7 separate regions of the Homo sapiens genome follow, and all the other regions are linked to region 4. Evidence: fine-mapped expression QTL. A gene starts in region 4. Each other region holds a variant in brackets. All regions are shown on one strand. Distances are between the middles of the regions.

Region 1 (4,356 bases), 78 kb after region 4:
GCTGAGAGGAGGCGTCCACACGGCTGAGGGAGGCCAGGCAGAGGCCATAGTGTGGGTGAAGGCCAGAGAATGGGCGAGCTCAGGGAACTGGGGGCCTCGGGGCAGAGCCCGGAGCAGAATGATGGGTGTGGGTGCAGGTGGGGCACAGGCTGGAGGTGTTGGGAAGAAGCCTGCGAGCCTGGTGCTGAGTGCCTGGCTAGCACCGAGTTCACCCGAGGAGCTCCTGAGTGTGGAGGGGAGATGGGGCTGGACCGGGACACTGGTGAGTCCATTCCTGGATGGGCAGAACTCAGCCACAGAGACCAGCCAGCAGGTTATGGGAAAGAGCCCCTGTGGAGGGCAAGGAGGGCGAGGGAGGGAAAAGGGTCTGCTTCGCTTTTTCCCGAGGACGTTGAAGGAAGGGAGAGGGCTTATGGAGAAGAGCAGGCCTCCATGTCCAGAGCAGGAATCCGAAAGTGGAATGTGTTTGCCAGATATTCTCTCTCCTCTGTCTCTCCCACTTCTCTCTGCCTGTATCTCTGTCTCCTCTTTGTCTCTCCCTCTCCCTCTCTGTCTCCTCTTTGTCTCTCCCTCTCCCTCTCTGTCTCCTCTTTGTCTCTCCCTCTCCCTCTCTGTCTCTGTTCTCGCTGCAGGAGCCCGTCCATATCCCTCATCCAGCAAACTCCATGGCCATGCAGGGCTCCTCAGGACACTGCAGTTGTGCCCTGTTTAAAACAATAACTGTTTCTCAAGTTTCTTGGAGTGAAGCCACCATGACCTTTGCAACAGACGAAGCCTACACTTTTTCCAAGTGTGACTCAAAGGACAAAAGGTTCATGCACAAGGCAGTTCTAAAAGTGGATGGGTAATTGCTGGTTCTGCTTCCTGTAAGGATTTTGTAAGATCACACCAAACCCACTCCCTTACAGAAAACAGCTTCAAAATCTGTACACAATGCAAACAGGCTGCTTGTGGGCGTTGGAGAGTGAACAGCAAGACGGACCTGGGGTGTACACGGGGGATAAAGGAGTTGCAGGAAGCACGTTCTCTTTGACCGTGGCTGTTAGCCTGAGCACTATGTAGTTAGGGCATGAGGAGCTGGGGGTCCTCAGGGAAGACCACAGTCTTCATGGCCTGGAACAGGAGCAGGACGAAATTGGGGAAGCTGTGGCCAGTGGAGGGGGGGAGCGTCCAGAAGGGGAAACTTGGCGGACTCTACTCATGTTTCCGACTGGCCCTGAACTGCACACACTCAAAGCAGATAAAAGAAGCCCAGCTAAAGGCTGGTACAAAATGACCTTCTTTATAATGCTGGTTGTGTTCATTGTTCAATATTAATATAGCTGTTCCCGCTTTTTTTTTTTTTGACTAGTGTTAGTACAGTGTATCTTTTAAAATCCCATTAGTTTTCATGTATTTGTGAATTTATATTTAAAGTGGGTTTTGGGTAGGCAGCAATTAGTTGGGTCTTGCTTTGTTATTAAGTCTGACAAACTGCCACTGAATTAGACCAATGGTTATAGATCATTTTCATCTACCATCACTGTTGATAATGGTTGGACTTAAACCACCATCTTGCTATTTGCATTTTATTTATCCTGTCTACTTTTTGTTTCCTGTTCCTCTTAGCCAGCCTTCTTCTGGACTGGGTATTTTTTAATCATCCCATTTAATCACTTCTGTTGGCTTATTCCCCATAACTCTGTCTGTACATATGTATGTGTGCGTGTGTGTGTATACATTTTAGGGTTTATAGTGTGCACCTTCAACTTATCATAATCTATCTTCAAATAATATTACACTACATCATGATGGTTTAATAACCTTACAGCAGCACACTTCCATTCCCTGCCCTCCTTCATGTCCTTGTGGGCACATATTTTATTTCTCTACATGTTCTATACCCAGCAAAACATGCTTTTCCTTCCTGTGCTTCTATCGGGTCTCCTATAATGTCATTTTCCTCTTGTCCAAAGGACTTTCTTTAATATCTCTTAGTGCTTATCTGCTGGTATGATTAATATTTTAGCTTTTATATGTCTGAAAAACTTGATATCTCACCCTGTTTCTACCTTTGTTGCCAGGTACAGAATCACAAATCAACAGGCTTTTCCCGGCAGTACTTTGCAGAGCTTGTTCCACTGTCCTCTAGCTCGCCTCATTTTCAAGGAGAAACCTGTCGTCATCCTTGTCTTTGTTCCTCTGTACCCAGCACGTCTCTTTTCTTCTGCCTGCTGTTAAGATTGTCTCGTTCTTACC[CA/A]GTTTAAGCAGTTTGGTTAAGATGTGCCTTCTTCGTACTTCATACTTTTTGGACTGGGATATGTAGCTTTTAAAAAGCAAATTTCAAAAGATTTCAGTCATTATGTCCTCCTTTTTTTTCTGTTTTTTTTTCTTTGTTTTCTTTCTGGGACTCTAAATGTATGAATTTTAGGCCAATTGAAGTTGCCCCCCAATTAGCTTTCTGCTCCTTTTGAAGGGGTCTATTTTCTGTCTGTGTTTCACTTTGGATGGTTTCTATTATATACCTTTAAGTTCATTAATCTTTCCTTTTGTAGTGTCTGTCTAATCTCATCATCTCATCCAGTGAATTTTCTTTATCTCAGAAATGGTTTCATCTCTAAAAGTTAGAATTGGGACTTTTTAATGTTTTTCATATCTCTGCTTAACGTTATCATGTGGAATAGAGTGATAATAACTACAGTTCATCTGTGTCTAGGAATGCCCTCATCTGTGCCATTTGTGAATTAGTTTCAATTTGTTGATATTCCTCATTACATGATGTGTTTTCCTGCCTCTTTGCATACTTGGTGATTTTTTACTGTATGCTAGACATCATGTACTTTTCCTTGTTAGATCCTGGATAGTTTTGCACTCCTAAAATTATTTTAAAACTTTTCAGGGATGAAGTTACTTTACTTGGAAACAATTTGATATATTTGAGGCTTGATTTTAAGCTTTTTTGGGTGGGGCCTAAATTAGTCTAGGACTGATTATGCTCTACTACTGAGGTGATACCATGCTGAAAAAGCTTAATAAGGAGAAAGATCAATCAATAAATATTCACGTATATTCACAAAATATAATGAGGAGAAAAATCAATCAGTAAATATTCACGTAACCCTAAAAAAAGTTAAGAAATGAGAAACAAAGGGGGGAACTGGAGGGTATGTATAGAGAGCGAGGCATAAAATTACAGACCCAGACATAACCATGTCAATACTTATTTAAATATGAGTGGACCAAAGATTTCAGGTAAAACGCAGAGGTTGTCAGAATAGATATGAAAACAAGACCCACACACATGCTGTCTTCCAAAATTGCACTTGAAGAACAGAGACACAGGTAGCTTTAAATGACATTAAAGTTAAAGCATAAACACTGGAAAGGGAGAAGAAGAACTGCCTCTTTATGCAGATATCATGAATCATGTATGAGGAAGTATCTTAAGAAACTTACAAACAACTAGCATAGGCACTGAGAAAGCGTGGTCTACTCATCAACCACAAACAGGAATGAAGCCCTAACATGCCACAATATGGATGAACCTTGAAACTGAAAACATGATGAGTGAAAGAAGACGGACACAAAGGGCCGCATGTTATATGATTCCAGTTATACGAAATGGGCAGATCTAAAGAGGCAGAACGCAGGTTAGTGGTGACAGGAGCTGGGGGAAGGGAGGAACAGAGAGTGACACCTCGATTGATGTGGTGTCTCCTTTCTTGGTGATGCGAATGTCCTGGGGCCGACAACGTGGTGAACGCACTGGATGCCACTGAATTGTGCACTTCAAAATTGTGAAAATAGTGAATTTTATAATATGTGAATTTTACCACCATAAAAACCAAACTATTAGTACAAATAAAATTAGTTTAGCCAAGTTGCAGCATTTAACTTTCATAGAAAAATCGATTGTATGTCTTTGCTCATCAATATACTACCGTGCCACTTATGGTCCTTTTGAAGAAATGAGACAGCTGATGCTAAGATTTACATGGAAAGACAAAAGGGTTAAAATATCCAGAAACAACTTTGAAAAATAAGAACAAGGTTGTGGGGCCCACGCTACTTGATTTCAAAAATTACTATACAGGTATGGTAATCACGACAGTGTGGTTTTGGCATCAGGAAAGACACAGAGGCCAACTGAGCCGAAGGGGAAGTCAGAAAGACCCACATTTATATAGTCCCTTGATTGCTGGTAAAGGTAAAAATTTAATTCTTTCAGAACTAGCTGTTTCAATAAATGGTGCCAGGATAAGTTGATATCTACATGGAAAAACAAAATAACCTTCAAGCCTTACCTCCCACCACATGCAAAATTATCTTGAGATGGATCATGGACTGAAAATTATTAGAACTTTTAAAGTTCTAGAA
Region 2 (4,356 bases), 140 kb after region 4:
CAGAGTCTCCTCCCGCCTGCTGCACTTGGGGTTTATAGAGAGCACTTAGGCCTGCAGGAGCTAAGATTGCACAACTGCACTCCAGGCTGGGGAACAGAGTGAAACTTCATTAAAAAAAAAATCCACAGCTAAGTTGATGCAAAAGCAGCATCTAAATCATAGACTAGAAAAAGCAGCCACCACATGTGACAGTGAAGCTTCAGAAACTGCCTTTGGGAGGTAGGAGCAAGGCAAAGATATGCCCTTTCTATGTACCCTTTCTATGCAACCTCGGGTAGAGTTACCGGCTTGTGCAATAATGCAAGAAAATGAACTAAATGTGGAACAATGGGTCAGGAATAAAAGGAAACCATCATTCTTTATTGACCCTATAAAAATCTACATTTTAAAAGGTCATAACAAATAAGAGAGTTCAACTGGACACAAGACTAGTAAACAAAACTATCAGCAGTACCCAATTCATAATTATAAAAAGCAATTTCATTTGACATCAACAAAAGTTATCAGTTACCTAGGAATACATCAACTAAGACAAGGGTAATAACTTTATGAAAAAATAAAGATATCAGTGAAGAATATTTTTAAAGATGTCTATAAATGGGGAGGTGTGGTGAGACCTGCATGGTAAAGCGATGAAGTCTCCCCAAGTGAGGTGATGAATTTGATGCAGTTCCCACCAAGCACACACCCATGGGGACACGTTCACCTGCATCTGTTTACGTGTTTTTTAAAACTTGACTGGCTGACTCCAAAAACAATACAGGACAATAATAACCAAGATACTTTTAAAGGAGAAAAAGTAAGTCGAGGATACATTACACCAGATATAAGCACACCATATAAATCCATTGCAATTACAGCCACATGATATCTTGGTAGAAGAGAAAAATAGACCAAAGGAAAAGAGTACAGAGCACCAAAGAAGACCCTCTTCTGTGTTGAAACTTAGTCTATTAGAAAACAAATAAAGTGCCCAATCGTTTGGGCAATTGGCTCTTCATTTTGAAAAAAGATACCTTTAGATCTATACCTCAAGACATACACAAAGGTTATTTTCAGGTGGACTGAGAAACTTTATAAATATAGCAAGACTCTTTAGATGAAAATATAAGAAAATATATTTTGAATACATTTTGTGGATTTCGCAAAATACATAGAAAAATCACATGATCAAAAGATTAATAAAATTGACTAAAATTTAATAATAAATATATCTATAATAATTTTTTAAAAAATAATAATAAAATCTAAACTTTCCCTTCCACAAATGATATGGAGACTAGGATAAGGTATTTGTAAAACATCTTGTGAACTAAAGATTTCTATTGAGAGTACTTAAAGGTTTTTAAGTGGTGCTGGCTCCCCTCTTAGGGGACTCTTAGTTCAAACAGGTTTCCTCTCATGGCTGAAGTGTTGAGTGCCTTTTCCACTCCCGTTCTCTCACAAGTGTGCAGAGGCAACTGACGTGTGATGTCACTGCAGACTGAATACAGAATTCCACATGGGAAACTTGTTTCCCAGGAGCCAGGCAGCAGGAGCATTCACACATCTAAACAATGCTACTCCTGTCACCAGTTTCTAAAGAAAATATAGTTATTTTCGTAACATGTTATGTTATGAACATAACATAATCCTTGATGTTCATTAGCATAATGGATTCATTATGAGTTTTCACTAATTGGTTACTTAATGTGATGGTTACTATTGTCAACTTGATTGGATTGAAAGATGCAGAGTATTGTTCCTGGGTGCGTCCGTGAGAGTGTTGCCAAGGGAGATTCACATTTGAGTCAGTGGACCTGGGAGAGGCAGACCCACCCTCAATCTGGGTGGGCATCATCTCATCAGTTGCCAGTGTGGCTGGGATAAAAGCAGGCAGAGAAATGCGGAAGGACGAGACTGGCTGAGTCTTCCGGCCTTCATCTTTCTCCCACGCTGGATGCCTCCTGCCCTTGAATAC[C/T]GGACTCCAAGTTCTTCAGTTTTGGACTCTTGGATTTACACCAGTGGTTTGCCAGGGGCTCTCGGGCCTTTGGCCCCAGACTGAAGGCTGCACTGTCGGCTTCCCTACTTTTGAGGTTTTGGGACTCAGACTGGCTTCCTTGTTCCTCGGCTTGCAGCCTACTGTGGGACTTCACCCTGTGATCGTGTGAGTCAATACTACTTAATAAACTCCCTTTCATATACACTTCTATCCTATTAGTCCTGTCCCTCTAGAGACTAATACTCTTAAGATTTTAAATTGTTCTCCATTTTCATCTTTAACATGGTAAATGTTAATAGATAAACCATACTTATTAGGGTTCTCAATTACTTCTTATTATTTTTTTAATTGACACAATATGGCACATATTCGTGGGGTTCACAGGGATGCTGCAGTACATAGAATGAATCAAGGATTAGATCAGGGTGGCGAACACATCCATCGTCTCAAACACGATAATTTCTCCTCCTAGCTATCTGAAACTATGAATTATAGTTAACTATAGTCACCCTACAGTGCCAAAGAACCATAGGACTTATTTTTCCCATCCAGCTGTAATTCCATATCCTTTAAAAAATCTCTCCCTATCCGTCCCCTCTCCCTCCCCTTCCCAGCCTCTAATATCCTCTGTTCTACTTTTTACTTCTATGAGAGCAACATTTTTTAAAGTTTCCACATGTCAGTGAGAACATTCAGTATTTAACTTTCTGTTCCTGGCTTATTTCACTTACCATAATGTCCTCCAGTTCCATCCGTTTTGCCATGAATGACAGGACTTCATTTTTTTTTACAGATGACTAGTATTCCACTGTGTGTATATACCACGTTTTTTATCCAGTCATCTGCTGTTGGACACCTAGGTTGATTCCACGTCTTGACTATTGTCAATAAACATGGGGTTGCAGATATTGGTTTGATATACCGATTCCTTTCCTTTGGATAAATGTCCAGGAGTGGGATTGCTGGATCTTATGGTAGTTCTGATGTGGGGCAGGTGAGCCCCAAGGTGGAGTTTAGTCTGCAAGGGTTCTTGCCTTTGCCCAGGAAAGAATTCAAGGGCAAGCCAAAGGAAGAAGAAAACAGCTTTATTTATTTAGAGACGGAATCTTGCTCTGTCACCCAGGCTGGAGTGCAGTGGAGCGATCTCGGCTCATTATAACCTCCGCCTCCTGGGTTGAAGAGATTCTCCTGCCTCAGCCTCCCAAGTAGCTGGGATTACAGGCACGCACCACGACGCCCACCTAATTTTTGTATTTTTAGTAGAGACGGGGTTTCAACATTTTGGCCAGGCTGGTTTTGAATTTCCCACCTCGTGATCCGCCCACCTCAGCCTCCCAAAGTGCTGGGATGACAGGCGTGAGCCACTGTGCCCGGCCAAAAACAGCTTTATTAATAAAGAAGAAATGTTACAGCTCTGAGACGGTTCCTGCAGAGCAGGGCTACCCTCTCTGCCCTGTAAGAAGAGAAGAGCAGCTCGGGGCAGTTTTGCAGTCATGTTTAATCCACTTTTAATTTCACGCGGATTAAAGACGGTTTATGCAGAAATTTCTAAGGAAGGCATAGTAACTTTTGGGTCATTGAGTCATTGCCATGGAAAGGAGCGGTAACTCCCGGTGTCGTCATGGCAACGATAAACTTCCATGGCACTGGTGGGTGTGTCTGATTGAAAGCTGCTTCCGCCCCAGCCCTGTTTTAGCTAGTCCTCAATCTGGTCCGGTGTTCGAGCCCCACCTCTGGAGTTGAGTCCCACCTCCTACCTCAGTTCTGTTTGTAGTTCTGTGAGGAACCTCCACACTGCTTTCCACAGTAGCTGTACTGGTTTACATTCCCACCAACAGTGTCAAGAGTTCCCTTGGTTATTTTTTGTCTTTTTGATGAACGCCATCACAACTGGGGTGAGATGATATTTCTTTTTTTTTTTTTAATTTTTTTTTTAATTATTATACTTTAAGTTTTAGGGTACATGTGCACATTGTGCAGGTTTGTTACATACGTATACATGTGCCATGCTGGTGTGCTGCACCCATTAACTCGTCATTTAGCATTAGGTATGTCTCCCAGTGCTATCCTTCCCCCCTCCCCCCACCCCACAACAGTCCCCAGGGTGTGATGTTCCCCTTCCTGTTTCTATGTGTTTTCATTGTTCAATTCCCACCTATGAGTGAGAACATGAGGTGTTTGGTTTTTTGTTCTTGCGATAGTTTACTGAGAATGATGATTTCCAATTTCATCCATGTCCCTACAAAGGACATGAACTCATCATTTTTTATGGCTGCATAGTATTCCATGGTGTATATGTGCCACATTTTCTTAATCCAGTCTATCATTGTTGGACATTTGGGTTGGTTCCAAGTCTTTGCTATTGTGAATAGTGC
Region 3 (4,356 bases), 84 kb after region 4:
TTCATAAATGGCACCTGCTATCATTATTAGTGATCTAGGAATAGGACCTTAGCTTAAACCCCACTGTGAGAAAAAGGGAAAAGCAAGGAGGAGAGGCTTGTCCAAGGCAGCAATCCCATCTTCCAGACACCAGGCCAAGAGTTCTGGAGCCCGAACACAGGCGTGGCAGAGAGCCTTTGCTGCCCTTCCCCTGCCCACGGGGCGGAGGGGAGATCTCGGGCCCCACAGCTCCTGAGCAGGGCTCGGGGGTCACCCTCAGTGCTGGCAGGGAGTGCGGAGTTGCTTTGACTCACTCAGGAGTAGGTTTGAGCCCTGGTTCCTTTCCTTATCACTCAGAGGCCGATGGCGCAGTAGCTGCCTGAGGAACACACAGCCTTTGCAAGTCTTTGGGAAACAGGAGAACTGTCTTCCTTTGTCCGAGAAGCACTCAAGCTGACGGACAGTGGTGCTGCTACTTGCTGCTATTTCTCTCCAAACTTTGGGACTGCGGCCACAGCGGCGGCCACAGCTGTTATTCCTTGTGTCTGCCAAGGGTCTGAGAGTGGCCTGGCGATTCAGCTGTTCCCTGCCCACAGCCCACCCTACGGGATGGGGCCAGTGATGTCGGATCCCTGGTGGTCCTGGTTCTGGCTATCGCTGGAGGGGACACAGACTCCACCTGCGTTGAGCGTGCCGCTCCCTGTGTTCTCCATCTCCATGTTCCCACCTCTTCCTGCTCTTTTCCCCGTGCTTTCAGCTACCTAAGGGTCGCCACTTACCGTCCCTGCAGAGTGCAGAGATTTCTCTTTGAAGAAAAGGTTCTGGAGCAATCAGAGGGGTGAGTGTGGATGCAGCCAGCCCCAGCCCTATGCTGCTCCTCAGACTAATGGTGCTGAAGGCTAAGAGAACGAATAAATGGTAGTGAGCGTTTTTCTCATTAGGGTTTTAAAATCCTCCAAGTAATAGATCATTTTGTAGCATCTTACATGTCCTGCTTATCCTAATAATGTGTTATTACTGAATCTCAATAATTTTAATGGGGAAATTCTTTATCTTAAAAAATGTGAAGTGGCTATCCATTTAAAAAGTGTTAACGAGGTAACTCCAAGGGTTTCAATGAACAAGGAGGCCCATAGCTGTAGTGACCCAGTGCCTTCGTGTTTTAGACACTAGCTGAGATCTGCACACTGGAGCCATGGCCGTGGAGGGAGCAGTGACCAGGACCTGCCTCCCGCAGTTGGGGGCCTTTGGTGCTCAGCCCAGGCTTCTGTGCTGGGATGCAGGGCCAGTCTGTTCACACAGACCAGGATAGGCCCTGGACGCGTGCACAGACAAACCCCCACAGGGGTTCATTTTATCTGGGGTGTGGCAGGGAATCATGAGCTGAACAGAGATGCTGGATGCCGAAAACAGCCTCTGTCCCTGCCTCTCTGCCAGCGCTTGCTGTTTGCCTGGAAACAATCCCTCTCCTTCCTTGGCTGCAGTTTTCTCACCCATGAAGACGTGTTCAATGCAGACGTACCGAGTTTCCTCTGGGTCTTCCTGGTTGCCTGGCGTCTCCAAGTGCTCATTTCTCTTCCTTGCTCTTGCCCACCCCACGGGCCCTTCCCCCGTGAGCGAGCTTCACAGACACACACAGACACTAGTGGTTTGGGGTCCTTAGTTGAGGCCATCTTAACTGGCTTCCCTCACCTCCCGAGTGGCAGGCTAGGAGGAAGCGGTGGTTTATTACAGGGACAGATCACACTGTGCCAGGGAAGGCCAGGAAAATATATTCCCATTTTACTTCCTCTAATAATCTCCTATTTTCATCAGTGGGTGAGTGAACATGGCTTCTTCTTCCCAATGATGGTGCAAATGTATAATTTCTCCCAATGAAATCTGATTTTAATGAGAGACTAAATCAGAGGAAAGAGTATTATTTAGATAGTATATGCACATGTCAGGTTAATTTAAAATCAGCTTTTAGGTCAATCTATCTTAATTATTCTATTAACCGTTTTTGACTAGCAATTCCAATAATTGTGTTTGCGTAATACTTGGCAGTGTAATTGCTTTTTGGATTCTCTTCATTGTTTTGTCAGAGTCTGTTCCTGGGCCTCTGTCCCTGGTGAGCTGTGCTTGGGTTGAGTGTGTGCTTGGGTTGTGTATGCACATTCGTGCAACTGCACATGTGCTTGGGTTGAGTGTGTGTGTACAAGTGTGTGTGTGTGCACATGCTTGGGTTGAGTGTGCAGATGGACGTGCATGTGCATGCATACCTGGGTTGTGTGTGTGTGCACATGTATGTATCTGCTTATGTGCTCTAGTTGAGCATGCATGGGTGTCTATGTGCACATGTGCTTGGATGGAGTGCATGTGTACATGCACATATGTGCAGAAGTGCTTGCATAGTGTGTGTGCATGGGTATCATGTGCATGTGTGCTTGGGTTGAGTGTGTGTGCACATGTGTACATGGGTGCATGTGCTCAGGTTGAGTATGTGCATGTGCACACGTGTTTGGGTTGACTGCATGGGCATGGGCATGCAATGC[A/G]TATGTGTTTGCATCATGTGTGTGCACAGAAGTGCATGTGCTTGCATTGTGTGTGCATGGGTATGCATGTGTGCACGTGCTTGTGTTGAGCATGTGTGCATGTGCTCAGGTTGGGTGTGTCATGGGTGTAAGGTGCACACGTGTTTGGGTTGACTGTGGGCACAGATGCACACATGCATGCATGCTTGGGTTGAGTGTGTGTGCACAGGTGTGCATGTGCACATGTGCTTGGGTTGAGTGTGTGCCTGGGTGTCATGTGCACGTGTGCTTGAGTGTGTGCATGGGTGTCATATGCACATGTGCTGGGGGAGGTGCTTCCCTGATTATTAATGAATGTATTTTCATGGGGTTTATTGATATCAAGGACCCCTGTCTTTATTTTTTATTTTTAAAATAAACTTCATTTTAGAACATTGTTAGATATAAAGAAAAATTGTGATGATAGCACAGAGTTCCTGTATACTCCACACCCAGGTTCCCCTACTCTTACCCTGTCACATTATACTGTACCTTTGTCACAGTGAATTAGCCCATGTCGATACAGTAGTAGGAACTAAAGTCCATACTTTATTCACATTCCCTCAGTTTTCCCTTAATATCCATTTTCTACCTCAGAATCCAAAGTATGATGTTACAGTTGGCCCTCATGTCTCCTTAGGGCCCTCGCAGCTGTGACAGATTCTCAGACTTTCCTTATTTTTAGTGATCCTGACAGTTTTGAGGAGGACTGGTTGGGTATTTTGTGGAATGTCCCTCATTTGGGACTTGTCTGATCTTTTTCCTGTGATTAGTTTGGGGTCACGGGTTGTGGGGAGGATGGAAAGTGACCTTCCCACAGCATCACACCAACGTCCTTGCTGTCTGCGTGACTTGTCACCGGTGATGTCAACCTCGGCGATGTGGCTGAGGCAGAGGTTTCCAGTTTTCTCCACTGTAAAGTTGCTCTTTTTCCCTTTTCATACTGTATTATTTGGAAGGAAGACACTCTGCAACGCTTATACCTTTAATTGTTTATTGATGCATAACATTTTACATATTTATGGGGTGCATGAGATATTTGGATACGCGCATGCCATGTGTAATGATGGAATTGGGGTATTTAGGACGTTCATCACCTCGAACGTCTATCCTTTCTTCATGTTGGGAACATTTCAAATCTTTTCTTCTCGCTATTTCAAAATATACAGTATGTTGTTGTTAACTATAATCCCCTCACTGTGTTATCAACACTAGAACTCACCCCTCCTACCAAACCGTTTATTCGTACCCATTAACCACCTTCTCTTCATTCCCTCCACCCGCCCCCCACTATTTTTTAAACAGCTTTACTGGGTTATAATTCACATACCATGCAATTCACCCATTTAAAGTGTACAATGGTTTTCAGTATATTCACAGAGTTCTACAGCCATTACTACAGTCAATTTTAGAAAATTTTCACCACCTCAAAAAGAAACTCCACACCCTTTAGCTACTCTCAGCCACCAGCCCTGCCCCCACCCCCAGCCCTAAAGAACCACAAATCCTCTTTCTGTATCTATGGGTTCTGCACGTTTCTCAAAATGTAAACATATAGTGCGTGGTCTTTTGCGACTGGCTTCTTTCACTTCGCATAATGTTTTCAGGCTCATCCACCTTGTAGCCTGTGTCAGCACTTCATTTCTTTTTTCTTTTTCTTTTTTTTTATAAGTACTTCATTCTTTTTCATGGCCAAATAACATCCTGTTGTACGGATACACCACATCTTCTGTAGCCATTCGCCAGTCACGTGTATCGGGGCTGTTTCCATTGTTTGGCTTTATGAGTGGTGCTGCTACAAACGTTTGTGTTCAAGTTTTTATTT
Region 4 (4,356 bases):
CCGCCCTTGCTGGCTGGGCCGCCTTGTTGCACCTCACGGCTGCCAGCAAGCCCCTCTGATAATTCTGCTCCAGCCACTGGGTTTAAAAGACTCAATAGGCACATCCAGACCTTCTCCAAGGTGCCCACCCAGAGCACCCTCGCCAAGTGTCTGAAAGCCCAGCGGCAGCCTGGCTCCTTCCCTCACCAACTCATTCATTCATTGCCTGACCCCATTTCCCAAGCTGGTGACCACGGCTGGTCAGGACTCGCTTCTAAAGGGCGCGGGGTCTGGCTTCCTCACCAGCAGCCACAGGGCACAGCTCCCGGACCAGCCGGCAGCCCCTCCCAAGGAGGAGGTTATTCTGGAGACAAAGGCAGCGCCCTGAGGTAGGCGGCTGCCTCCTCCCGCACCACACTCCCTGCCCGGCCTCTTCCATGGGGGGCGGCCCTCTGGGGCCCCTGAACCTCTCTACACCATGCCTTGGGCTCACGGCTCCCTTGGGGGTGGGCACCTGCCAGCCCCCACTCACCAGTCCGGGTTCTCCGCCGCTTTGGGGCTGAGCCTGGTGTCGCTGTTCACATTGAACAGGACGTCCTCCTCCGTGAGCGGCGGAACCGCCACCCGGTAAAGCGGGTGCTCGAACAGCCTGGCCAGGAGGGAGGCGTCTCCGCCGGGGCCGGGGGGCGACTCGGACCGACGCGGGCCGGGGTCTCGCAGCAGCGGCCGGTGCGCGGGGTCGTGGGGTCTTAGGGCGCCGGGATCCCGCCCCCGCAAGGCGCGCTCGGCCGGCTCGGCCGCGGGCGGCAGTTTCTCCAGCGAGTGGGACGAGAGGTTGGAGGAGGGGTCGGAGCTGAAGTCCTGCAGGATGCGGAGCGTGTGCTTGTTGGGCCAGCCCGCGTCGCCGGCGGCGGAGGAGGCGGCCGGGGGCTCCCCGGGGCGGCCCCGAACCTGGGCCCAGCCGGGCGCGGCCACCTCGGCGGCGGGCTGCGCGCACGAACAGCCGGGCTCCCCCGAGGGCCGCGCGCCGCGTCGCTCCAGCCTGGGCAGCAGGTCCAGGGCGATGTGCAGCGCGCAGGCCACCAGGAACACCATCAGGATGAGCACGCGGAACCGGCGCACCAGCATCATCTTCATGGCCGCGCGGGCCGGCCCGGGCCTGGAGCGCGTTCTGCCCGCGCGCCCCTCTAGCTGCAGCTGGGCACGAGCGCGGCGCCGCCTCGCGGGTCAAGGTCCATCGGTGCCGGGCGGCTACCAGCTCCGGGGCTGTCCCCGGGCCCGGGCCGCGTGCAGGGCGCCCGCCGCCGGAGCGCTGGGTCCCCGCGCCATCTCGGGCCCGTCCCCGCTCGGCCTCTCCGGAGCGGCCGCGCCCTCAGCCGGGGAGCCCAGGGGTCCTGGTCCGCGGAGCCGGGCGCGCGGGGGGCGGCTGGGGCCGCAGCAGGGGGAGGCTCGGCGCTCGCAGCCGCCGGCGCGGGGCTCATCGGGCGTGTGGGTCCATCCCGGCCGGGGCGCGACGGGCCTGGGCGGTGGCGGCGGCCGCAGGCGTCCCGATCCTCAGCGCGCTCCTCTCCAGGCGCCGGGCGGGCGGGCGGGGAAGGGGCGGCTCCTCCGGGCCGGGCTCTGCTCTCACGCCGCGCCCGGGAGACCGGGGCTGGGGGGAAGGGGGGGGCGAAGGGCGGAAGGGGTGGGCGCGGGGAGCGGCCGGCGGGGTCCCGGGCAGGTGCAGCGGCCGCCCCGAGCGCAGCTCCCGCCTGGCCGAGCCTCTCGGCGCCCCGCGTCCCGGGCGGGCAGATATCGAGCGCCGCGGAGCCGCCCCCCGCGTCAGCGCCCACAGATTGGCGGAGCCGCCGCCCCACGAGTCACGGCTGGGCCCGGGCCGGCTGCGCTCCCGCTCTCCTTCCTCCTCCCCTCGGCCGCGCCCCGCGACGCCTCTGAGCTCCGGGCCCGCTAAGGAGAGGGCTCCTCCTGCCCGCGGTTTGCAGAGGGAAGCGGCGGAGACCGGGAGGGCGCGCTCGGTTCTGGCCAGGCCAGCAGCTGCGGCCGAGTGGGGGGCTCCGGCCTGGCCGCTTCCTGGGACCCCCTCCCGCCCGGGGCCGCCGCCGCCAGCTGCAGCCTCTCGGCTCCTCCCCAGAGGAGCGCGGGGCCGGGGCCCAGGCCAAGTCCCTCCCCGGAGCCGCGGGGCGTCTGCGCCGCCGGATGAGCTCCCCGCCGGGCGGCGACCCCGTGCCCCACGCCCGTCTCGGCAAGGAGGAGGCGGAGGCGGCCCCGCGAGAGAGGCCCAAGGAGCGACTGGGCCTGGACCCAGGGGACGCCAGGGCAGCGGAGCTCCCGGCACCGGTCCCGTCCCCCCCCCCCCGCCCACCCGCGGGACGCGCCCGCCTTAACCCTCCAGGCGCCGGGCCCGCTGGGGGCGCTGAGAGGGGCTGGTGTGCCGGGGGCGCCTTCCTGCTTGGGGCCGACGGGGGTGTGTGAGTGCAGGCGTGTGCGTGTGTGTGCGCATGTGTGTGTGTGGATGTGCGTGTGCGTGTGTATGCCTGTGTGTGTTTGTGTGTGCGTCTGTGTGCATGTGTGTGTGCACATGCATGTGTGTTCACGTGAGTGCATCTCATCTGTCACCCACAACCAGGGGAGCGGTGCTTGTACAACCAGCTGGTGGCTTCTGCAACCAGCAGCTTCTGGCCGTGCAGCTCCCTGTAGGGAATATGAGTTAATCTGGATGTCAGCCTAAGATGTAGTCAGGGAGGTAAGTGTGTGGGAGGAGGCCACATCCCCTGTGCCTCAAGCCGGCTGCTTCCACAGTGCCCAGACTGCCTGGGCCAGCAGCCTCGCCAGCAAGCCCAGGCGGGTGGGCCGGGAGCAGGGCCTGGGCCCCCCCTCTTACTTTCACCGGCTGGCTGTGTTACCAGGGCCCTCTCCGCCCTCTCTGAGCCTCAGTTTCCTCTGATGTGAATTAAGGGCGTTGAGCCCATTGTTCCTGAGGAATCACTCATCTCTGAGCCTGGCCCATTGCCTGGCATTCCGTGGGCACCCACTAGATACTTATAAGGGGAGAAGTTGTTCCAGTCCGGCTGGCCAGTGGAATCCATGCGTCTTGGGCCATTTGAAGTGAGTGAAGGGCTGGGTGCGGCCCACCTGGAGCTGGACTGGAGGCTGTGTTGGGTGGGGCGGTGTGACCTGGAGGTGGGCTGCCCCCTCAGGAGACAGCTTCACCCCTGTGAGTGGACCTCATCCTTCCTTCCTTCCACTCACATGGACAGCACATCTGTGTGTAGACAGGGTCACTGAGAGAGGCCAAGGAGGGTGAGGAGGAAGATCCCGGGTGTGGGGGGAGTCCTGGGGGAGCAGACAGCAGGGACAGAAGCCTGTGGCAGGAAGGAAGGTCTTGGCCTGTGTTCTCCCAGCAAGGGTCCCCTTGGACTTGGAGTTCTATAGGCTCCTGGCCCCCCCATCTCTCCCGTGGTCTACAGGACCTCGACGCAGAGCTGTGGCTAGTGTCTTGGGGCAGACATGGGGCTGAGCAGACCCCATGGAACACTATTATCCGGTGTGGGGGGCCTCATGGAGGTTCCCTGGGCACTTACTTTCACTTGCCTCCTGCCCCCAACTCCTCTCCCCTCCCATCCTCACCCCCAGAGTGGTTTTTGGGAGCCCGGCAGCTATCTGGACCCGTGTGCACCCCTGGACGCCTCCCTCCCTCGCAGAGGGTCCTGGTTCATCTCGTCTGTTGCCTCTTAGAACAGTGGCCTCTACCTCGCCAGGTCCTTCAGAAGCGCCCCCCTCCCTGCCCCGCCACTGTTTTCCCAACAGCACCCGCCGTGGTCTGAGGACACTTTCTTCTGCTCCTGTTTATTGTTTATCTCCCCCAAGCACAAGCAGTCGAGTTAAGACAGGAGCCTCGTTCAAAGTTCCGCCCGGGGCCAGGCACAGCGCAGGCTCTCAGAGGAGGGCCCAGGAGTCCACAGGCTGCGGCGGCGCGAGACAAAAGTCGGAAGACAGGACCCCGCTGAGGAGTGAGGAGACAGCGGCCAACCCTCCGCCAGACCCTTCCGCCTGGTGCCTTTACTGGGCTCTGAGGAGGAATTTGGTGGTTCAGTCGGCCCATCCGTGGACACCATAAAAACAAAGAGAAAACAGACACACACAGATGCACACATAGATACACACAGATACACACAGACACGGATATATAGACACACACAGATACACACACGTGGACACAGACACACACATAGACACAGATATATAGACACACACAGATACACACACGTGGACACAAACACACACAGACATACCCATAGTTACGGATATATGCATGGATACACAATACACAGACACACAGATGATACATGCATAGACAGATATATGGACACACACACA
Region 5 (4,356 bases), 110 kb after region 4:
TCTGCTTTGCTCCAAGCGACGGAGCTTTTTCATAAGTATAAAAAACAGCTAACTGGATAAAAACACCTTTCCTGGGGACCTGAGTGCTGCAATTCAAAGGGGCTGGCAGTGTGAGGCTGGAGAAGGGCTCCTGCAAGGCTCTTAGCTGGGCAGGCCGAGGGAGGCCCCTCTCGGTGAGCACGAAATCAGGGATGCCCCGGGCCGGTTAGGGATGGGGCCTGGACACCGTGAGATTTCCAGCAGGCTACACCTGGGGCTGCAGCCGGGGCAGCCCCCACAGAATACTCAGAGGCAGCGGGAAGTGCGGGCTGGTGACGAGAGTGGGAACACTGCCCCACACGCAGCCGCCTCGGTGCCACCTGGCGGACAAGCCGCCCCTGTCCCCCGCTTGGCCTCTCCACATGGCACATTTGCCCCTGGCAGTGCCCAGCCCCAGGTCCGGGTGACTGGGGACAAAGAATACCGATGGAAAAACAAGCTAACGAGCTCCTCCTAGGGAAGAGGCCCGCGCCAGGGAGGAGGCGGCCGTCTGGGCGGAGCTTCCCGATAGCCAGGCCCGGGCGGTGCCAGGACACTCACCTCAGGTCTCACCTGCAGAGCATCCACGAGTCACTCACGCTGGGCCAGGCACAGGCTGTGCACACAGAGGGCAGATCCAGACCACACGAGAGCATAGGTGCCCACGGGTGTGCAGGGATTGTGGGGGGAAAGGAGTGTGTGCTTGTGTGCCTGTAGGCGTGGGTGAGTGTAGGTGTGCCTGTGGGAGGGCGAGACCATGAGTGTGAGGGTGCGCGTGTGCCTGTGGGAGGGTGTGTGGGTGTGGGTGTGCGTGGGAGGGTGTGATTCTCTGTGGCTATGCCTGATTGTGTGTACATGTGGGTGCACATGCTGCACGTCTGTGCTGCAGGAACCCATAGGGCCAACCTTAGGTCCTAATTCTGGGCTGACCGTGTGCCGTCCCCCACGGGCCCCTGCATCCTCAGTTCCTCATCTGTGCTGTGGGCAGAAGCTGGGCTGCCCCACACTCCAACATCCCTAGAAGGGAAGGGATGGGGGCAGGGCTGGCTGCAGGGACAGCCTCGCCCACAGCAGACACGGAGGCCGCAGGGTCATGCCCTGGATGGATGTCACCCAGGAAAGGTTTTGCCTCCTCCAGTCTTTTAAATCAGGCTCCAGGGGCTACGATTACAGCCCTGGGCTTTCTCCCACCCCTCAGCCTCCCTCCTTAGTAGCTCCACAGCAGCTCCCTCCCGAGAGCACACCACCCCTGCACGCTCGGAGCTGCATCCTCCAGCCCCTCATTCCCCGCTCATCTACTCCGACCCAGCTAGGGATCCGGCTTCCCTCTTAGGGCCATTTCTCCTTTGCCAGCATTTTCTCTTTTTCCCTTCTGTCATGCTCTGCTACGTCCTCATGCAAAATTAAGCCCAAAACGGTTTCAGTTACTCCCAACCCTGAGACGAGTTTTAAAATAGTGACAGGATGAACATTGCACCTCCCATGTGAGGGCTGTAAGGGACTGGCAGTTCCAAATGCATCTTCCACTCGCAAAGTTGCTAACACAAATCCCATGGGGAAAAGGGAACTGCTGACCTTTCAGCGTGCAGATCTTCCCTTTGATGGGTTTGCTTGCCTTCAGAAGAGCCCAGGAAAGCTCTGCACAGAGGCCTGTGTGTTTCCGCCCCTCCTGTAGGAAATGAACGGGTGCGTCTTCTCCGTTGCCTTTATTGATCAAGGCCAAAATCACAAGTATAAATTACCACGGTGGGAAACGAGCTGCTCTGATGAGAGGCAGGTGGAGGAGGCTGCCTCGTCAATAATGCATCTGATCAGAAAGAAGGGGCTGATCAGAGGGAGGCCGGGCTCTTTGAAGGTTCTGGTTTTCCCATGGAAAGCTCCACCAGCTCTCTGCCTGCCGAGTTCCTGCTCTTGCCCAGACGGGAAGTGCGAGTAGCTTTCATATCAGACCTGCCGCTCACCGCACCGAACTGATTCCATGGACACTGACATTTGTCTCTGCAGCAGGGATGGCCGCCCTGGCCCAGGCTCCTGTCGCTGTGGATGCCTCTGTCTGGCACAGACTTTCGGTGTTAGAGCCCCAGGTGAAGGTCTGAAGCAAGAAGGAAAAGGACACAGAATCCCATCCCTTCTGAACCTGCGGGGTGCAGCTGCCCTGAGATCCTGTAGCATTTCACTGGGAGCCGACAGGGATGGTTTGCGCGCTGCCGGGATGCGTGAACAGGGGAGTCCATGAGGCCCCAGGGCTGACTCAGGGCACGTGCAGTTTGGGGAGCAGCCAGGGAGGCCTCCCGGGCAGCCGGTTGGAGGACAGAGCTGAGGACATGCAGGCTGTCTTCTATGATCAAGGGTGGGTGAGGCACAGAGGA[A/G]CTCTGGTGACTGGATGCAGCCGTGAGGGGCCGTGGCCCAGAGAAGCACAGCGGTGTCTCACCTGGCTTCTCCGCAGGCCTCAGACTCATGTCCTCAGGTGCAGGTGCCGGGCCCTCCTCCAACAGTGAGCTCCAGCTGCCTCCCCGCTCAGGGGCCACTCTGCTCTGATACGGGCTCTGATACCGGCCTGCAGCTCCCCTGCTCTTGGTTTCTGCCTGGTGTCACCTTCTTCCACGACACCCAGTCCCAGGATGACTGACGCCCAGGGAGATCTGTCGCCTCTCCTCAGAGACCACGTGTGTTCACCCTCAGCAGCAACACGCTGCTCCTTCCTCAAGGCGTCCTGAGGCATTGTGCATTTTCACCATTTCTGGGATGTAAAGAAGGAGGAATATTTGTCAGATAGAGAGAATACCGGTTCAGATGGTTGGTGGCTCAGATAGAGGTGGGGTTTGTTCCAGCCAGCAGCCCGTCCTGAGAACCAGGCTGGAAGAAACACCCTTCCCTGTGGCACCACAACACCTACACCGAGGTGTCTGTGCTGCCTGGAAAGCACAGCGGGTCTCCCCAGTGCTGGGGTCATCCGGAGAGCCAAGCACCTTCCAGAGGGGCCTCGAAGTGGGGGCGCAGGCCCCCCAGGGTGCTCAGGCCAGACCGCCTCCTCTCAGGTGGTTCAGCAAGAGCTTCCTTCTGCCTCAGATCCTTCCAGGGTGTGGACTCTCTTTTCTTATGATTCTTTTCTGACTTCACCTTACGTCACTCCTCTCCAAACCTAGATGGTAAGCCCGGTGAGGGCAGGGACCCAGCCTCCCTCATTTGCAAAGCAACCACAGTCCCTGCCTTTGAGCTGGGCTGCGGGTGCCAAGCTGGAGAGCATTTCGCCCTCTCCCACTGCTGCTGAAACAGAAACCACAAATTTAGTGGTTTAAAATAGCACAGATTTCTTCTCTTGCAGAGCTGGAGCTCAGAAGTCCGAAATGAGTTTCACTGAGCCAAAGCCAGGGAGTCAGCAGGGCTGGTCCCTCTGGAGGCTGCAGAACACCTGCTCTGCACCTCCTCCGACCTCTGCAGCTACTCGGCACCCAGGACAGCTGTGCGGCCTCTGCTGTGTCTGAGCTGCTGTTGTTCCATGGCCCTCTCTGTGAGCTTGCTGTCTCCCTCTCATAAGGGCCCTCTCATAAGTCATCTGGATGACCCAGAACAACCTCCCAATCTCTAGACACTTATCCCGACTCCATCCATAGAGCCCCTCTTGCATGTAAGGTAACGTGCCCACGGGTTCGTGGGATTAGGATGTGCACACCTTTGGGGGCCTGATGTAGCTGACCATGCCCACATCTGGTGGGAACCCACCTTCAGGGTTTCTTCTCCTTGGACACAGGCTACAGCCCAAGCCAAATGTCCCAGAGCCTGGAGCAGGGCCCCCCTCCCCCACTTTCCCCAAAGAGGCTGGCGCGGGAACAAAGCCCCTGTGTGGTCAGGAGCTGGGAGGGCAAGACAACAGGACAACAGGACAAGAGGACAACAGAACAACAGGGCAACAGGGCAACAGGACAACAGGGCAACAGCCATCCCAGCTGGAGAAGATTCTCAGGGCTGAGGTGGAGGAGGTCGGGCCTCAGCCGGGCTCAGAGTGGAACTGCTGGTCCTCCTGTCACAGGAGGGAGGGGCGGTGGGACGAGAAGAGAGGGCCTTGAGATCAAGCCGTGCCCTGCTGAAGCCTGGCAGAGGGGCTGTGCCTCTGGGCAGCTGGTGTGAGCTGTCGTCTCGTGCAGCTGGTCTAGGATGGGGCAGAGGCTCTGCCTTGACCTCTCCCACCCCTGGTGCCGTTTGCCCCTCCACTCCAGGTGAGCACAGCTGGAGCAGCAGCTACCTCGAGGACTGGTGGCCTTTGAGGTTTTCCCGATGGACTTTTCAGGCTTCTACCAGCGGGGCCCCGTGACTGTACTGCCTCCTGGGAGCTGCTAC
Region 6 (4,356 bases), 90 kb after region 4:
CTGGGTGGAGTGTTCTGCAGATGCGGTTGCTGGGTGGAGTGCTCTGCGGTTGCTGGGTGGAGTGCTCTGCGGATGCGGTTGCTGGGTGGAGTGCTCTGCGGATGCGGTTGCTGGGTGGAGTGCTCTGCGGATGCGGTTGCTGGGTGGAGTGCTCTGCGGATGCGGTTGCTGGGTGGAGTGCTCTGCGGATGCGGTTGCTGGGTGGAGTGCTCTGCGGATGCGGTTGCTGGGTGGAGTGCTCTGCGGATGCGGTTGCTGGGTGGAGTGCTCTGCGGATGCGGTTGCTGGGTGGAGTGCTCTGCGGATGCGGTTGCTGGGTGGAGTGCTCTGCGGATGCGGTTGCTGGGTGGAGTGCTCTGCGGATGCGGTTGCTGGGTGGAGTGCTCTGCGGATGCGGTTGCTGGGTGGAGTGCTCTGCGGATGCGGTTGCTGGGTGGAGTGCTCTGCGGATGCGGTTGCTGGGTGGAGTGCTCTGCGGATGCGGTTGCTGGGTGGAGTGCTCTGCGGATGCGGTTGCTGGGTGGAGTGCTCTGCGGATGCGGTTGCTGGGTGGAGTGCTCTGCGGATGCGGTTGCTGGGTGGAGTGCTCTGCGGATGCGGTTGCTGGGTGGAGTGCTCTGCGGATGCGGTTGCTGGGTGGAGTGCTCTGCGGATGCGGTTGCTGGGTGGAGTGCTCTGCGGATGCGGTTGCTGGGTGGAGTGCTCTGCGGTTGCTGGGTGGAGTGCTCTGCGGTTGCTGGGTGGAGTGCTCTGCGGATGCGGTTGCTGGGTGGAGTGCTCTGCGGATGCGGTTGCTGGGTGGAGTGCTCTGCGGATGCGGTTGCTGGGTGGAGTGCTCTGCGGATGCGGTTGCTGGGTGGAGTGCTCTGCGGTTGCTGGGTGGAGTGCTCTGCGGTTGCTGGGTGGAGTGCTCTGCAGATGCGGTTGCTGGATGGACTGCTCTGTGGTTGCTGGGTGGAGTGCTCTGCGGTTGCTGGGTGGAGTGCTCTGCAGATGCGGTTGCTGGGTGGAGTGCTCTGCGGTTGCTGGGTGGAGTGCTCTGCAGATGCGGTTGCTGGGTGGACTGCTCTGTGGTTGCTGGGTGGAGTGCTCTGCGGATGCAGTTGCTGGGTGGAGTGCTCTGCGGTTGCTGGGTGGAGTGCTCTGCGGATGCGGTTGCTGGGTGGAGTGCTCTGCGGTTGCGGGGTGGCGTGCTCTGTGGTTGCTGGTGGCGTGCTCTCATGCTCTGCAGATGCCGGCCAACTGATCCAATCTGACATTTCTTTGTTGATCTTTTGCCTACTTGTTCTACTCATAACGAAAGTGTGTTATTGAAGTCCCCAGTTTGTTGCTGAACCGTAGTCTTGCCTTTTTCCTCAGACTTAGAATCTGTGTCGAAACTTCTTGATGGGAAACATGTGATTGGCTCTCAGGTCTCAGCCTCTGCTCTCCCCATTACATGCCTGGAACATCCTGAGGGAGCTCAGAGCAGACAAGGCCCCGGCTTCACGCTTCAGATATGCTTCCATTACTCCCACCTTATAAATGAGGAACTGAAGGGCAGAGGGGTCCAGAGCACTGCTGAGGACAGCTGGCTGGCTCAGAGCTGGACTCGAACCTAAGGCAGCTCAGTCTCAAATTTATGCCCAGCGCCATGTTGGTGCATGCCCTCCTGGGGTAGCCAGAGAGTGTCATGATTACACCAGAGATGAAGTAGTCGGAATATGGACCCACTCCTAAGCTGCTGTGTGGGCTGCTGTGTGGGGAGTTCCAGAAGCGCACACACCAGTGGAAAAATTAAATGTGGATTTTTATGGTATCCCATCTGGCTTCTGCCACCTCCCAGGCGTGGATCTGCTCACAGCCAAGTGACCTCCCATCTGCAGGCTTCTCCCAACGCGGCTCAGTGGTGCCTCATCTGGACCACGAGTCCTCTCCACCCCAGGTGCGCTTCCACGGATGCCCTTGGACTCTCCTGCCTGGTCTTCCCACCGCTCACCCTGGCCTCTCTCCAAAATCCCCCATGGCTGCCTTTCTCTATCATCTGGCCTCAAAACCTCAGTCATTCATTCAAAGCCCTTTGTAATCCAGACCTGACTTGGGTCACAAATCAGCAAGTGTATCCATGACACCAGTGACCCTCAGGCCCCACTCTGTGGCTTTGGTGAGT[G/A]ACAGATGACTGTTGAGTGACTAAGCAATGGTGCAATTGAAATTCCAGGGAATGAGACCCATTTGGAATTTCCTGAAGAAACAAACCCCCAGGCACAGGAAAGAGGCATCCGTGCATGTTTGGCTCCCTTTTGCCTTGAAATCCACGGAGCTCCGAGGCTCTTTCCGGCATGCTGGCTGTACACAGGGCCTTTCAAGGGCAAGGAGTCCTCAGCTTTCTGGGTCTCCTTAATGAGCCTGAGGCCTGCTGCCTGCAAGTGCGGCCCCTCTGTGCTTTTGCTGGCTGTTTGTGAAGTCAGCCCTGCCTTTAATAGGCCTGCTTGCAATTAACATGGAATATAATACTGAAGAAAATGCTGTAAAGCACTTGGCCTCTCAGGAGCATAACACTAAATGTTGATGCTCAAAGGCACTAAACAACGTGCATAATTAGGCAAATAACTCTCCCCTAGTTTCCAATGCAGAGAAAGGAGGGAAGTTAAGGAGGGTGTGTGTTCAAGCCTGTTGGATCAGTGATGCTAGGGAGAGGCCTGGAGCTGGCTTCCTAGGGCCCAGGGTCCCGTGAATGACTGGGGTGAAGCAGCCTTGCCATGTGCCTTTGGAACACCCTCAGGGAAGGGTCACAGGGAAAGGGCACACCTAGGTTCCTCAGGCAGGTGCAGCTTACAGCTTTCCAGGCTGATCTCTATCCCTGGTCAGAAGGGAATGGCAGACCCAGAGAGGAAACAGACCTGCCCAGGCCCGCGGAGATGGAAGAGACTCGATTCTCCTGCAGATGAGGCTTGAATCTGTTGGGTCCTTTGGGAAAGTAGGTCTGGAGAACTTCAGGGTGCAAACAGGACGCAACCATGCAGAGTTACAGTTTTTCTCATAACAGGGTGTTGGATTTTCTCAAGTCCTTTTTCTCTATCAATTGAGACAGTCGTGTAGTTTTTGTCCTTCATTATGACAGTGTGGCAGATTATCTTGATTGATGTTCATATTTTGAGCCATCCTTCCATTCCAGGAGTAAATCCCACTTGGTCAGGGAGTATAATCCTTTAATGTGCTACGGAATACAGTTTGCTAGTATTTTGTTGGGGATTTGGCATCAGCAGTTATCGGGAAAATCGGTCTGTAGTTTTCTTTTCCTGTAGCTTTCTTGTCTGGGCTTGGTATCAGGATAATGCTGGCCTTATACATTGAGGTTGGAAGTGTTCCTCTTGTTTAGCTTTTCAGAAGAATGTGAGGAGGATTGCTGTTAATTATTTAAATCCTTGGTAGAATTCTCCGGTAAAGCCATCTGGTCCTGGGCTTTTCTTTTTTGGGAGATTTTTGATGACTAATTCAATCTTTTACTAGTTATAGGTCTTTTCAGATAATTATTTGTTCATGATTCAATCTTGGTAGGTTGTATATTTCTAGGAATTTTTCAATTTCTTCCAGATTACCCAATTTGTTGGTATATAGCCATTGTTCATGACATTCTCTTACAATATTTTTTATTTATGTGGCATCAGTTGTAAGGGGCCTCTTTCATTTCTGATTTAATTGAGTCTTCCCTCTTTTTTTCTTAGCTAATCTAGCTAAGAGTTTCTGTTAATTTTGTTGATCTTTTCAAAAATCCAGCTCTTCAGTTTGTTGATTTTTCTATTGTTTTCTATTATTGTGTTTATCTCTGTTCTAATCATTACCATTTCCTTCTTTCTGCTAATTCATGTTTAACTTGTTCTTCTTTTTCTAGTTCCTTGAGATGTAAAGTTAGGTTGTTTATTTGAGATCCATCTTCTTTTTAAATGTAAGTTTTCACCTCTATGAATTTCCCTCTTAATACTGCTCTCATTGCATCCTATAAGTTTTGGTATGTTGCGTTTTTGTTTTCATTTGTCTTGAGATATTCTCTATTTTTCCCTGTGGTATCTTCCTTGATCCTTTGGTTTCTTAAGAGTCTGTTTTTAAATATTCACTAATTGTGAAGTTTCCCGTTTTCCTTCTGCTGTTGATTTCTAGTTTCATTCCTTTGTGATCAGAACATATATTTTCTATAATTTCAAACTCTTACATTTGTTAAGACTTGTTTCGTGGCCGATCATATGGTCTCTCTTGGAAGATATTCCACGTGCCCTTGGGAAGAATGTATTATATATTCTGCTGTTGTTGTGTAGAGTGTTCTATATACGTCCGTTAGGTCCAATTGGTCTATAGTGCTGTTCAAGTCCTTTGCTTCCT
Region 7 (4,356 bases), 72 kb after region 4:
GGCATTTTGTTTGCTTACTTGTTATTCAGGATGTTAGGGTTTCTGCTTCTACAATTGCTATTATTTTCTTCCTTTTGTGGATTTTGGCTGGAGAATATGGTCTAAGTGTTCTTGGGATTTGACATAAGTTCAAGTTAAAGAAGAGGTTTCACGGCTTCTTGAAGAGAGAGGCATTTCCCACTCCAGGTGTGATGTACCTGTCAGGATCCACTGCTGGGTCTCCCGATGCGTGTTTGGGACCCTGGGTTCACAGAGGGCCGCTGAGGTCCCCACTGCTGCGGGCTGCCTGGTCATCTTCAAATGATGCTGGAATCTCCACTCACGTACTTACCTCCATTCCTAAAATAGTATCGTGTTTTTCCTCTTTATTGTTTGTGCTATTGGGGAGGAGCCTATTATCAGAGGAAATGGATGCACATCGGACACCCTGGTCTGGCTTTATCAGGTTCGCATGCCCTTTCTTATCACCGCCTTTCCCTGCCCTTCCCCTGCCCCTCTCCACCCCTTTCCCTCCCTCCTTCTCCTTTTCTCCTCCCTTTTACTCCGTCCTCTCTCCTTCCCTGCTCCTTCTCCTTCCTTCCTGCATTTCCTCCCCCCTCCTTCCCTCCTGCCTCTCCTTCCCTCCTCCCTGTCTTTTCCGCCCTCTTCCCTCCCTCCGTTTCTCTCCTTCCCTCCTCCCTCCTCCCTTCCTCTCCACCTCCCACTCCCTCCCTACTCCTCCCTCCCTCTTTCCCATCTTCCCTCCTCTGCTCCCCCAGCCCTTAGCTTCAGAGATCTGAGGTCCTGTTCCTTAGCACCTGGGAAAGCTGGCCCCACAGACCCTCAGGTTCTCTCCACTCACCGACTGGTCCCCTTTCCTGCCAGTGCCTCTCTTGGTTCCCACCCTTCTCCATGGGCAGCCAATTTGCTGTGTTTGACATCTTTTAGTTTGTATGTTTTCTTGAAGAATCGGCCTGACTGTTACGGGTACGGGAGTCACCGTGCTCAAGAGGACCCTCTGTGTGGCCGCGTGCTCGTCCAGGGCGGGGCCTGCCCCACTGCGGAGCCCAGCCTTGAAGCTGCCATCTTTCCACGCTCACACCGAGGGCATTCAGGTTGCCTCCCAGTAATGCTTGGTCCAAGGAGTCCCAGACCGAACAGGAAACTTTAATGCTGATTATACCACATTCATCTTTTTAAAACTTGGTTCTCACTTGCCTCTGATTTGTGCTGTTGACATGTTGTTTAAAAAGCCTTGCCTCGCTCCTTGGCCATGGTTATATTCCCTTATATGAGGTTAAATTTGTAGCTTCACCTGTAGGTGACGGCCATGCCTGGTGTGGCTGGCTGTTGAGGTGCAGGGCGCCGCCGTCCAGCAGAGGCCAGTCCAGGAGCAGAGTCCAGAGGCAGCCTGCAGCCCCTGTCCAGAGGCCCTGAGGGGTCCGGGCCAGGGAGGTGGCCTGGCTGCAAGCCCAGCAGAGCAGGCACGTGGGCAGGACCTGGCCGCAGTCTCACGGGGCGGGCCCCTCCTTCTTCCCCGACGCTCCCCGCTCCCTCCCCACACAGGTGTGCGGGGCTGAGCCCCCGGTGAGTGTAGTGTTTCCAGCCTATGTGCCGGAGTCACCTAGGAACAAGCTCCTGAACTTGCAGCAGAATGTAGCTGCGGACGTTTTGAACACACCGGGGAACAAGCTCATGGATTCACAGCGGAATGTCGCTGCGGACGTTTTGAACACACTGTGGAACAAGCTCCTGAATTCACAGCGGAATATAGCTGCGGACATTTTGAACACACCGTGCAATGTTCTCTTTCTTCATTCATCCTTTTGCCAATTTCCTTAACAAATATTGAATTTCCACCATGACTCAGGCACTCCAGAGTGAACCAGGCCAGACCCTGTGCCCAGGTGCCTGTGCCAGAAATAATTGGGCTCTCCTGGGCCTCTAGGTCAGTTTAAAGTTAAGGGTCCGTGCATCATTGCTGTTAGAAAATTCCTGGAAAAAGTATTTGCATGTCTTTGGGGAAGAGAACCAGAGGAAAGGAATGGGTTTTCTCCCTGGACAGTGAGTG[C/A]CCTTCCCTGCGAGTGACCAGGACCAATGTGATGTGGCTGGGGCAGTGGGGCTGGAAGAGGAGTGGCAGCTGTGTTTGTCACAGGCCTGGCTGAGGAATTCTCTGTGGCTCTGAGCCCTCGCTCCTGCTCCTCAGGGGCTCCTGGCCCCTCTCCTGCTCAAAGCTTGCTCCCCCAGAGGGTCCAGGCAGCGAGACCTGGGTGTGGGCCGGCCTTCCCTGCCCTGCCAATGATGGCTGGGTGGTGGCAGAACCCCCTAAGGCCCAAGGAGTTCTGCTCAGTGCAAGACTCATCATCTGGCCACACTGCAGGTCCGCAGGGGACAAGGCTCCAGGCACAGGAAGACCCAGCTCCCATGGCCTGGCCCCCGAAGGCTCGACCCCGGGGACAGACTCTGGGAAACTCTCTCAGCTGGAGGCTTTCCGTGCAGCTGGAGTTTAAACAGCCCAAGGCTCCGGGCTGTCATCTCCGCCCAGGATTAGCTGCTGCTGGAGACTTCCTCTCGTGGGCCCCGTGCTGGGGCTGTACAGCTTCCTACCTCACGCCATCTCTGTGGTCACAGGACGCTGAGTGGAGAAAATAAAACCCACGCAGGGACGGCAACCATCGTGGGGATACGTGGGGCTGCGCTCAGGTCTGCAGAGGCCGAGGCTGGACAGGGTGGGCCCTGCTTCCTCGTCAGCAGCGGGAGCCCCGTGACCCCCAGCACGCGGTTCAGAGTGGAGAAACTGCCGGGTGACCACGCTGAGCTTCCCCTTCCTTCCCCTTGTCCAGGCTCAGCAGGGGCTCTGGGCTGATCCTACTCTTCCCACTGGAGGGAGCCGTGGGTGCTGGGGGCTCTGGGGGCCTCCTGGCCTCTGGGTGGTCGTGGGCTGCTGGCTTAGGGTGAGGGCACCAGGATCCGGGCTCAGGGACGTCTGTGCCCGCCGTTCCCACTTCCCTTCGACCTCCCCCACCTGATTTCTTCTCTGCCCTCCCCTCCCTGCCGCTAAGGAGTCTTTGGCCTCTGCTGATCTTCTTTAAACTCCCTGCTGCAGCGGTTCACGGAAACTTCCCAATTACCACATGATGACACTGGCAATGGCTTCTCACGTTCTCTGTGGCCAGACTGTGCTCAACACTCCAACCATTATCTCGTTTACCTCAGAAACGTCCCTAAGCTGCGGGCAGGGGCAGTGTCGTGGTGACCGTTCCTCCCTTTTCCAGGCGACTAACCTGGGGTTCCAGAGGTCGGCCCTTCTTTGTCCTGGTGGACGGCCTAAGGCCGAGGTGTCCGACCCGGGACCGAGTGTCCCTGTCACAGGAGACTGGCTGACACCTGCATGCAGTTTATTCCAGCCAAGACAGCCACGCCAAAGGACCACGCCGACGGGAGGAGAGGTGGGTTGAGGTGTGCCAGTCAGGTGAGACTCAGGTGGCAACTCCACAAAATGCTGGAGTTAACAGCGTGACTCACAGATCCAGAGAGAAGAGGGCAGCCCCCTCGCAGGGCTGGTGGTGGGAACGGGGCGCTGTCTTGGACGCACACAGCCAGAGGGACAGGGGCTGTGGTCAAAGCCTTCACTGGGGTCCAGGGTATTGCCCAAGCAGGTTCCCACAGGAAGCTCTGGTGGGTGCACTCAGCCAGTGGGCCACAGCCCCACGAGGTCACACTGGAACTGGGAGGGGTCTGCTGTGGGACAGCTACACAGTCCTTGCAGGGTGTGGGGTCTGGGCGAGTCCTGTGGGCTGTCCCATAGCGGGGTGGTCACCAGGAGACGTCTGAGTAAGGCAGGTGTCTGGAGGGACCACCCTGAGATACTGGGGGAAGGCAGAGAACTGGAAACTGTGTCAAGGGTGACTGAGCCCCGATTCTGGGAGGACAAAGCCCCAAATGGGTGCTGAGGGAACACGACATCGTAAGAATTCCGCACAGACGCTTCAGTGCTGCTGATGAGAGAGGGCGTCAGGCTGTGAGCGTGTCAGAGTCTGGGGGGTGTAAAATTATTGCACGTAAATAATCAGGAAACAGCTGCCTAGAATAACCTTTATATTGGAAAGTGTGCTTTGAGGTCATTATGCCAGATTTTATGGCCATTTCTTGGCTGAGCCCTGGGATGGCTTATGTCTTTGCAGAAAGGCATCATCACATTTTATGAATGACAGATGGCTTTTACCACACCTTTGCATGATCGCTTATGGTAATAGGACTGCGGTGCCCTGAGACGTGGGGATCTGCGTGAGTGCCCCCGGCAAAGTCTGCTCTTCCGGCCTCGAATCTGGATCCCAGGTGAGGCCTGAGGGTTTTATTTCTTCCTCTGATCTCCCT

Direction of the effects. Positions count from the first base shown, and alleles are read on the strand shown. Sizes are in standard deviations (SD) of each study's normalised expression. Not every link is listed here.
With allele A in place of G in region 6, the expression in fibroblasts of the gene that starts at base 1,745 in region 4 is higher (large effect, 1.2 SD a copy in GTEx).

The links. PIP is the estimated chance that this variant, and not a neighbour inherited with it, causes the effect.
Region 1: its variant is fine-mapped to the expression of FAM20C in whole blood (TOPMed, PIP above 0.99).
Region 2: its variant is fine-mapped to the expression of FAM20C in whole blood (TOPMed, PIP above 0.99).
Region 3: its variant is fine-mapped to the expression of FAM20C in whole blood (TOPMed, PIP above 0.99).
Region 5: its variant is fine-mapped to the expression of FAM20C in whole blood (INTERVAL, PIP above 0.99).
Region 6: its variant is fine-mapped to the expression of FAM20C in fibroblasts (GTEx, PIP above 0.99).
Region 7: its variant is fine-mapped to the expression of FAM20C in whole blood (TOPMed, PIP 0.99).

What each region holds. Positions count from the first base shown.
Region 1 is chr7:112,174-116,529 of GRCh38, reverse strand. LOC105375114 (a long non-coding RNA gene) reads left to right here. Exons shown (of 3, transcript XR_926959.3): 3 at 633-3,874. Among named protein-coding and RNA genes, the nearest start is that of LINC03015, 35 kb to the left of the region's middle. The variant CA/A (reference allele first, on the strand shown) is at 2,239.
Region 2 is chr7:49,401-53,756 of GRCh38, reverse strand. No RefSeq gene overlaps it. Among named protein-coding and RNA genes, the nearest start is that of FAM157D, 16 kb to the right of the region's middle. The variant C/T (reference allele first, on the strand shown) is at 1,961.
Region 3 is chr7:106,246-110,601 of GRCh38, reverse strand. No RefSeq gene overlaps it. Among named protein-coding and RNA genes, the nearest start is that of LINC03015, 41 kb to the left of the region's middle. RefSeq lists an enhancer at 1,212-1,928. The variant A/G (reference allele first, on the strand shown) is at 2,514.
Region 4 is chr7:189,960-194,315 of GRCh38, reverse strand. FAM20C (FAM20C golgi associated secretory pathway kinase) reads right to left here and starts at 1,745. Exons shown (of 10, transcript NM_020223.4): 1 at 512-1,745. The coding sequence starts at 1,116. LOC124901808 (a long non-coding RNA gene) reads left to right here and starts at 4,198. Exons shown (of 2, transcript XR_007060632.1): 1 at 4,198-4,356.
Region 5 is chr7:78,532-82,887 of GRCh38, reverse strand. The region is part of intron 1 of LOC105375113 (a long non-coding RNA gene); the gene reads left to right. LOC101929756 (a long non-coding RNA gene) reads right to left here. Exons shown (of 3, transcript NR_187733.1): 2 at 1,594-2,758. Among named protein-coding and RNA genes, the nearest start is that of FAM157D, 45 kb to the right of the region's middle. RefSeq lists enhancers at 1-585, 586-1,358. The variant A/G (reference allele first, on the strand shown) is at 2,388.
Region 6 is chr7:99,767-104,122 of GRCh38, reverse strand. No RefSeq gene overlaps it. Among named protein-coding and RNA genes, the nearest start is that of LINC03015, 47 kb to the left of the region's middle. The variant G/A (reference allele first, on the strand shown) is at 2,150.
Region 7 is chr7:117,869-122,224 of GRCh38, reverse strand. LOC105375114 (a long non-coding RNA gene) reads left to right here and starts at 2,794. Exons shown (of 3, transcript XR_926959.3): 1 at 2,794-3,428; 2 at 4,164-4,317. RefSeq lists a silencer at 2,172-2,390. The variant C/A (reference allele first, on the strand shown) is at 2,051.